2 separate regions of the Homo sapiens genome follow, and region 1 is linked to region 2. Evidence: fine-mapped expression QTL. A gene starts in region 2. The other region holds a variant in brackets. All regions are shown on one strand. Distances are between the middles of the regions.

Region 1 (4,392 bases), 59 kb after region 2:
TGCACCTACCTTCAAACTTCTGTCTGGAAACCACTTGTACTTTTTTCTTCAAATCTACTTCCTCCAGAATGTATCAACAGATTTGGCTTAAGAAGCATACTTGACACATAGGAGCTATTAAATTGTATTTGTTGAAAGACTGAAGGAATGTATGAAATCGTTTCATGCTCTACCAACTGTGTGTATATAGCATGAGCCGAATGGTACTCATTGAAGAAAATATAGTTTATTTGAAAGACACCCTGGACATAGAAAGTGCCCTGAACTTGAAGTCAGAAAACTTAGGTTTAAGACCTAGCTCTGTCACACATTATGAATCTCACTTAGGGTATGTCTGTTAATGGCTCTGGACTTTATTTGGATTGTCTGTAAAATGAGGCTACTAGGAATCTGCCAGAGGCTGCTGGCAAGATGGCCGAATGGAACAGCTCCGGTCTGCAGCTCCCAGCAAGACCAGCACAGAAGGCGGGTGATTTCTGCATTTCCAACTGAGGTACCCTGTTCATCTCACTGGGACTGGTTAGGCAGTGGGTGCAGCCCACGGAGGGTGAGCAGAAGCAGGGTGGGGTGTCACCTCACCCAAGAAGTGCAAGGAGTGGGAGAGCCTCTTCTTCCCAGCCAAGGGAAGCCATAAGGGACTGTGCTATCTGGCCCAGATACTATGCTTCTCCCACAGTTTTTGCAACCCACAGACCAGGAGATTCCCTCAGGTGCCTACACCACCAGGGCCCTGGGTTTCAAGGACAAAACTGGGTGGCTGTTTGGGCAGACACTGAGCTAGCTGCAGGAGTTTTTCTTTTCATACCCCAGTGGCGCCTGGAACCCCAGTGAGACAGAACCATTCACTCCCCTGGAAAAGGGGCTGAAACCGGGGATCCAAGTGGTCTCGCTCAGCAGTTCCCACTCCCACGCAGTCCAGCAAGCTAAGAACTACTGGCTTGAAATTCTCGCTGTCAGCACAGCAGTCTGAAGCCAATCTGGGATGATTGAGCTTGGTGGGGGGAAGGCATCAGCCATTACTGAGGCTTGAGTAGGCGGTTTTCCCCTGACCGTGCTAAAAAAGCCTGGAGGTTTGGAACGGGCAGAACTCAACACAGAGCGGCAAATTGGCTGTGGCCAGACTGCCTCCCTAGATTCCTCTTGCCTGGGCAGGGCATCTCTGAAAAAAAGGCAGCAGCCCTAGTCAGGGGCTTATAGATAAAACTCCCATCTCACTGGGACAGAGCATCTGGAGGAAGGGGCGGCTGTGGGCGTAGCTTCAGCAGATTTAAATGTTTCTGCCTGCCAGCTCTGAAAAGAGCAGCGGATCCTGACAAAGAGGGTTCTACCAGCGCAGTAGAGCTTGAGCTCTGCTAAGAGGCAGGCTGCCACCTCAAGAGGGTCCCTGATCCCCGTGACTCCTGACTGGGAGAGACATCCCAACAGGGGTTGACAGACACCTTATACAGGAGAGCTCCAGCAGGCATCAGGCCAGTGGCCCTCTGGGACAAAGATTCCAGAGGAAGTAGCAGGCAGCAATCAGAGGGTGCAGAGAAATAGGAACACTTTTACACTGTTGGTGGGAGTGTAAATTAGTTCAACCATTGTGGAAGACAGCATGGTGATTCCTCAAGGATATAGAACCAGAAATACCATTTGACCCAGCAATCCCATGACTGGGGTATATACCCAAAGGACTATAAATCATTCTGTTGTAAAGACACGTGCAAACGTATGTTTATTGCAGCACTTTTTACGATAGCAAAGACTTGGAACCAACCCAAATGCCCATCAATGATAGACTGTATAAAGAAAATGTGGCACATATACACCATGGAATACTATGCAGCCATAAAAAAGAATGAGTTCATGTTCTTTGCCGGGACATCGATGAAGCTGGAAACCATCATCCTCAGCAAACTAACACAGGAACAGAAAACCAAACACTGCATGTTCTTCCTCATAAGTGAGAGCTAAACAATGGGAACACATGGACACAGGGAGGGGAACAACACACACTGGGGCCTGTCGGGGGATGGGAGGCAAGGGGAGGGAGAGCATTAGGACAAATACCTAATGCATGCAGAGCTTAAAACCTAGATGACGAGTGATAGGTGCAGCAAACCACCGTGGCACATGTACACCTATGTAACAAACCTGCACGTTCAGCACATGTATCCCAGAACTTAAAGTAAAATACAAAATAAAAAAAAAAAGCTACAAGGATCTAGAACCAGAAATACCATTTGACCCAGCATTCCCATTACTGGGTATATACCCAAAGAATTATAAATCATTCTACTATAAAGACACATGCACACGTATGTTTATTGCAGCACTTTTTACAACAGCAAAGACTTGGAACCAAGCCAAATGCCCATCAATGAGGGACTCAATAAAGAAAATGTGGCACATATACATCATGGAATACTATGCAGCTATAAAAAAGAATGAGATCATGTCCTTTGCAGGGACATAGATGAAGCCATCATTCTCAGCAAACTAACACAGGAACAGAAAACCAAACACCGCATGTTATCACTCAAAGTGGGAGTTGAACAGTGAGAACATATGGACATAGAGAGGGGAACATCACACACTGGGTCCTGTGGG[G/A]GGATGGGGGGCAAGGTGAGGGAGGGCATTAGGACGAATACATAATGCACGCAGGGCTTAAAACCTAGATAACGGGTTGATGGGTGCAGCAAACCATCATGGCACATGTATACCTATGTAACAAACCTGCATGTTTTGTACATGTATCCTGGAACTTAAAGTAAAATAAACAATTAAAACCAAAACAAACAAATAAAAAAGAATGTGCCTGACATAACAGGAGTGTTGTGGGGATCACATGAAATTACACTGAGTAAAAATTCTATGGTGCTGTTTTATTGGGATCACTGGAATTGGATTGGAATTTCAAAACTGGAAGTTCCAATTCAGCAAAATTGGAAATTCAAAAAAGCTATGAACCTGTTTGTAAGAATATTCATCAAAAAGTAAAGTTCATAAATGTAAGTATAAATTCAGCGTAGTGAGCACAGGCACTGGGTCAGATGGAGGTGGATTTGAAAATAGTCTCCACCATGTATTTGCTCTGTGGCCTGAGAAAATCACATCAATAACATGGAGATAATAATACCTGTTTCAGAGGGTGATTGCAAGAATTACAATTAGATAGTATATCAAAGTAGGCTAGGCTATACTATGGTAACGAATAGTCCTTAAATCTCAGTGACTTCAAATAACAGGTTTATTGTTTATTTCCCACTCATAATACGTGTTTACTGTGGTCCCTGCAGACCAGCTTTGGTGGGAGAGGGATCTACTCTACACTGATCCAAGATACAAGTGGACAGAGCACCCACAATCTGGAACACAGCAACCTAGGGTAAGGGAAAGAGCCTTCTGGAGGGTCTGAATGGAAGTGATACATGTCATTTCCATTTAGATCTCAGTGGCCAGAACTAGTCATATGGCCCCACTAACCCTAAGTTGGCCCCCCTTGTGCCCAGAAGGCAGAGAGCCAGAAATATTGGGTGGACAGTATAATGCCTACCACAGATAGCACACATGATTACCTTTGGCACAAAATGCCCACTCAGATGTTCCTCCCACACACACAAACACAAATGTTATACACACACACACACACACACACACACACACACACACACCCTTTTTTTTTTTTTTTTGAAACAGTCTCATACTGTCACCCAGGCTGGAGAGCAGTGGCATGCTCACAGCTCCCTGCAGCCTTGATCTTCTGGGCTCAAGTGATCCTCCCACCTCAGTCTCCCTAGTAACTGGGACTACAGGTGTGTGCCACCATGTCCAGCTAATTTTTTTTTTTTTTGTATTTGTTGTAGAGATGGGGTTTCTCCTTGTTGCCCAGGCTGGTCTCAAACTCCCGGGCTCAAGTGACCCACCTACCTTGGCCTCCCAAAGTGCTGGGATTACAGGCGTGAGCCACTGTCCCCAGGCTTTCCTCCCTTTCTATGGAGGAATAAGATGAATTTAAGCAGTATGCTTGAAATTTATTTGATCAGCATATACTGAGTAACTACTTAAAGTTTCCCTTTGAAATTTTGTAAATGTGAAAGAGGGAGTTTTAAAATGGGCCCTAGAATTTATTTAAAAGAAGAAATATATTTCATTTAACAAAATGCTCAGAAAGCCATTTTATTGTGGAAAAATACTGCCATGCCTCGTTGGCTGTGCTAAGAGAAGACATTGAGCAAAATTATTGTACATATTAAAGGGAAAAGAATTTCAAGTTTCTTAAGGCAGCCTGGGAAGCTTTCTAGAATAGAGACTGAAACATTCAATTTTAAATAATCTGCCGTGGTACATGGCAATGTAACGCCTCCCCTAAATCTTCAACAAAAACCTGCTATGCTTTGGGTGAGCAGT
Region 2 (4,392 bases):
TGTGTTTGTGTGATCTTTGGGTGGATGTGTGCACACCACCTGCTGAGCTTCGCTGTGTGCGTGCCTCACCGCCAGCCCTAATCTGCCAGAGCTTCCTGGCCTTGCAAATGTTTCTGTGGAGGGTCCATATTAGACTCCAGTGGTTCTTGCAGTCTATAAAGTCTCCTTGAAGGTGATTCCCTGTTCCTTGAAGACAACTGGCTGGGCTGGATGCCTGAATATAGCTCCCTGACTTCTCTAAAGGACAAACTTATTGCCCCTTTAGAGAAGTCATGAAGCTTTGCCGGCAAGCACAGAGTCTAGCTTAGAAAACACAACCAGGGCCAGGAGTGGTGTGGCTCATGCCTGCAAATCCAGCACTTTGGGAGGCCAAGGCTTAGAGGATCACTTGAGCCCAGGAGTTCAAGACCAGCATGGGTAATATAGTGAGAACTTGTCTCTACAAAAAATTTTAAAACTAGCCAGGCATGGTGGTACACACTGGTAGTCCCAGCCACTTGGGAGGCTGAGGTGGGAGGATCCTTTGAGCCTGGGAGGCAGAGGTTGCAGTGAGCTGAGATTGTGCCACTGCACTCCAGCCTGGGTAACAGAATGAGACCCTGTCTCAAAAGAAAAAAATAAAAAGACCACCAGGGCCCAGGCACAGAGCCTGGAGCGGGGAAGAGATAGCGGAGTTAACTGTGAATCCTGATTGCACTGACCACAGTCTAGTGAGCAACACATGTTTCCTTTTGAATATGAGTGGGAATCACCTTTAAAACTATATAACATTTGCATCTTCTCAAAAGCCCCAGGTCCTACTAAGATTGACTTAGGGCTACATATCAGGTCTCATTTTCAAGGAGGAAACACAGGGAAGCCTCAAGATGTGCAGAAGAGAGGGATGTGGGGAATACACCCAACCACTCCTCTGCTGAGGTTGGAACAGAACAAGGAAAGTCCCCGGACCTCCTCTCAGCAGGCAGAGAAGTGCGGGGCCTCCCTCTGGCAAAGCCTGCAGATGTGGCCAGCATACCTCCATACACACAGCTTCAGAGGCAAGGGTGTCCAAGGGAGTCTTAAGTTTTATCAGAAATAATGTCATTCGACTGACCAGTAAGGGGAGCTTTCAGAAAGTTATGGAAGAAGATGCGACAGACACAGGAAGGACTTCAGAAGCAAGAAGACAACTGGACTCTCTAAAATGCCACTCCGAAAGCGAAAAGGGAAGCCCACAGACCCACGAAGACGTGCTGGCCTCGTGTTGCCAGTTCTGTTTCTCTTTCAATACCCATCTCTTCAGATTGAAGGGCTTCTGCCTTCTTGCAGTTTTTGCTGACACGTTTACCCATTTACAAACCTTGGCTGCACCTAACTTTTTTTTTTTTTTTTTTTTTTTTTTTTTTTTAGCATTTAAGTTCCTAGCCAAAATACCCGGGCCTCTAGGAAAGCCCTTTTCTCTCCCTCTGAGATCTTTCCTTACCAACCCCAGCCTCCCAACCCGGGTGTCCTAGGTGGGACCAGGGACGATCCTTCGGAGTTGGTCAAGGAGGCGTCGGAACAGCAGGCATTTGCCCTTCTAGTTGGCAGCAGCGATGAGCCGCGTGCTCCATGCTCAGGGCAGGGGCAGCCGCCCGGGGAAGGGGCGCCCGATACACCGCTCACCGCTCAGCCCCGCGTCTCCCTCCGGGGTCCTTTACCTCCATGTCCTTCAGGTGCCGACTCTGCGGCAGACGCACCCGCTCGCCCGGGCCGGAGCTCACGATCCCCGCTGTCCCCTCCGCTCCCGGCCGTGGCCAGTTTCGGGCTGCGGCGGGCACAGGGCGAGTGGGCGGTGGCGCGCGCCCGGCTGCGCTCGGCTGCGGGACTGCCCCGGCCGCGGGGGCCCTGCGCGAGAGAACGAGGAAGGAGGAGGAGGGAGGGAGGGAGGAAGGGGAGGGGAGGGGAGGGTGGGGAGCGGGGAGGGAGGCCGACGATCAGGGTTTAAATTTAGACGCAAATCTAAACAGATACTGTCCCTCCCAGGGCAGGACTCAAGAGCGGGAGCCACGACTCCATGTGCCCAAACATGGGGATGGGCAGCCACCGGGCCCCTCTGTCTCGCGAAGTTTCTCAGGACCCTGGGCTTTGCCACGGTCTCAGTCCTTCTCAACGTCTCCCTCCCTTAATGCGCCTTCTTTCTTTTTCCTGTCCCTTCAAGAATTAGAGTGGTCCTTTAATTCTTTTTGTTTCCTCTCTTTTCGATTTCCTTCTTTTGTGTCCATCCTTCCTGCTTTCCTTCTTCCTCTCCCTCTTTTTAAAATTGCATTACTGTCATACCTGGTTTCCCTGCAGTTCTTGGGTGGAGTTCGAGGACCCTCCCTGGTGGAAGGCGTTTGTGTTCTACCAAAAGAGGAGCCCTTCTGACCGAGGCTTCAGAGCTCAGCGTGGCGCCGACGGGACCACCTTTCCCTTCTCACCTCTTTTCCTCTCCACCTTCCAGGAAACCACTATCTATCCATCTATCCATCTATCTTCTGTATACGAGTAGAAGGAGGAGGAGGAGGAGGAAAATCAGGAATCCACGCAAAGTTTTCCAAGCTCCCTGAAGTGGTAAATCTTTTCTTCAAACCTTGCTTTGACTGATGCATTCGGTTTTGTGGGAATTTTGGCTCCCACAAGCTGCTTGCTAAAGGGCCTCGTCTCCATTCCTGTTAAATATAGCAAAGGGCAAGATGCTCAACATCTGATTCCCATAGGGCCCAGCATAGCAACCTTCCTTTAGGGCCATCCCGGCTGGGCAGCAGAGACCGCATGGGAGGGATTCGGGGACTGGAATCTGCACCAGGGTCACTCCCTGCTACCCGGATCCCGGCCCCCTTCAGACCCTTCGGCAGAGAGAAACAGGAAAATGCCTTGAGAGACCTGTGAGTGCCAGGGTATTGGCTGGGTATATGACGCCTCTGGGTTATCCCACAGCATTCTCACCCGCCCAACCCCAGCTCAACCAGGGGAGGGGAGCCCCATCAGAGGTGGGCAATGGGACAGGTGATGGTGAGCACTGTGAAGAGACATGTGGAGAAACAGTAGAGAAAAAAGGCTGAGAGTCTGCTCCTGCTACAAAGACTACCCTGATTCTGGTTATCCCGGCACCATCTTTGCACTTTCAGGCACTTAGATTGCTGCTTTGGGTACCAGTCTTAGAAATATGGCCTCCTTCCTGTCCTAGAACTTTCTAAGGCCCAACTTTCTAAAACACTGGCAGCCCTAATGCCAGAGTGGCTTCTAGTTCTTTAGCTTAGCTAAGCATAGAGGAAGACGCCTGGTTTTAGGAACAGACAGATTGAGGGCTGAATTCCAGCTCTGCTACTTTCTAGTTGTATTTTTTAGACAAGTCACTTAACTGCTCTGATTCTCATTTTCCTCACCTATACAATGTAGTAGGCACTCTGCAAAAAGTGGCTGTTTTTATCATGCTTAGCCCCATGTACAAGCTTCAGATGAATAAGAGCCTGATATTTCTTTTATTTAGAGACAGGCACTCGGGGACCCAGTGAAAAGAGCCCTCACTCCCAGGAATTAATAGTGAGGCCCCTCCCAGTCCAGCCACATGGCTGCTCAGGTGAAGACTCGAGAGCAGAGTCGGCAGTAAGGAAGGGTATTTACTGGTAACCTGCAAGGCACACTTTTGCTCGTGCTTCTTTCCTTTCTTTTTAAAGGTGCAGGACGTAGTGATGACTGCATAGTCTACTATCAGGTCTTCTAACTCTGCTCCACAGGGCCTTTTCCTTTCTCCCTCTACCTAGTCCTCCTTTGTGCTCAGAATGGGGCTGCCCCAGCACAGGTTTCTGGCTTCACAAACAGGAGGGCGGAAGTGCTTACCCAGAGGAAACCGTTAGGCCTAGATAACATCAGTCACCCAAGGTGACTTGCAGCTGCTCCCCACGCCCTGCTTAGGCCTCTCTTGGCTGAGAACAGATGACCACAAAGCAAACAAGCTTGGCCTCCACCATGCTCCTGGGTCCCCAGTGCAGAGTTTAATGCTGCTCCAGAGCTATTTGGGCCCCAGACTGGGACTTCTCCTGAGGGAGGGGGTGGAAAACGGGGAGGGAGGGACCAAGAGGTAGCCCCGAGCTGTGTTTAGGCAGCCATGAGTAGGTGTGGTGTGTGTACTCCCCTTATCTTCTTCTTCTGTCCCTACAGAAGATCTCCAGGAGCCAGAATAGCAGTAACTCTGCTGATAAACACCCAGGTTTGCTGGGTTATCTGGGATTGTAACTGGCTGCTCTGGGGGCTGGGAGGAAACAACAGCCCAAGGGGAAGGGAAAGTGACTTTCCGAGGAGTTGGTTCCCCTCTCTCTCTGGAGGTCTGGCTGGCTAACACGGAACCACTTCCTTCAGTCTACCCTGGGCCTTCCCCTTCATATATCCTGA

The links. PIP is the estimated chance that this variant, and not a neighbour inherited with it, causes the effect.
Region 1: its variant is the best candidate, but not a certain one, in a credible set for the expression of RCSD1 in whole blood (INTERVAL, PIP 0.51).

Annotation. Positions count from the first base shown.
Region 1 is chr1:167,568,370-167,572,761 of GRCh38, reverse strand. No RefSeq gene overlaps it. Among named protein-coding and RNA genes, the nearest start is that of CREG1, 17 kb to the right of the region's middle. The variant G/A (reference allele first, on the strand shown) is at 2,593.
Region 2 is chr1:167,627,717-167,632,108 of GRCh38, reverse strand. It overlaps RCSD1 (RCSD domain containing 1), which reads right to left and starts at 1,877. Exons shown (of 7, transcript NM_052862.4): 1 at 1,680-1,877. The coding sequence starts at 1,685. RefSeq lists enhancers at 1,091-1,160, 3,679-3,728, 3,739-3,908, 3,989-4,048 and silencers at 1,701-1,920, 1,941-2,020.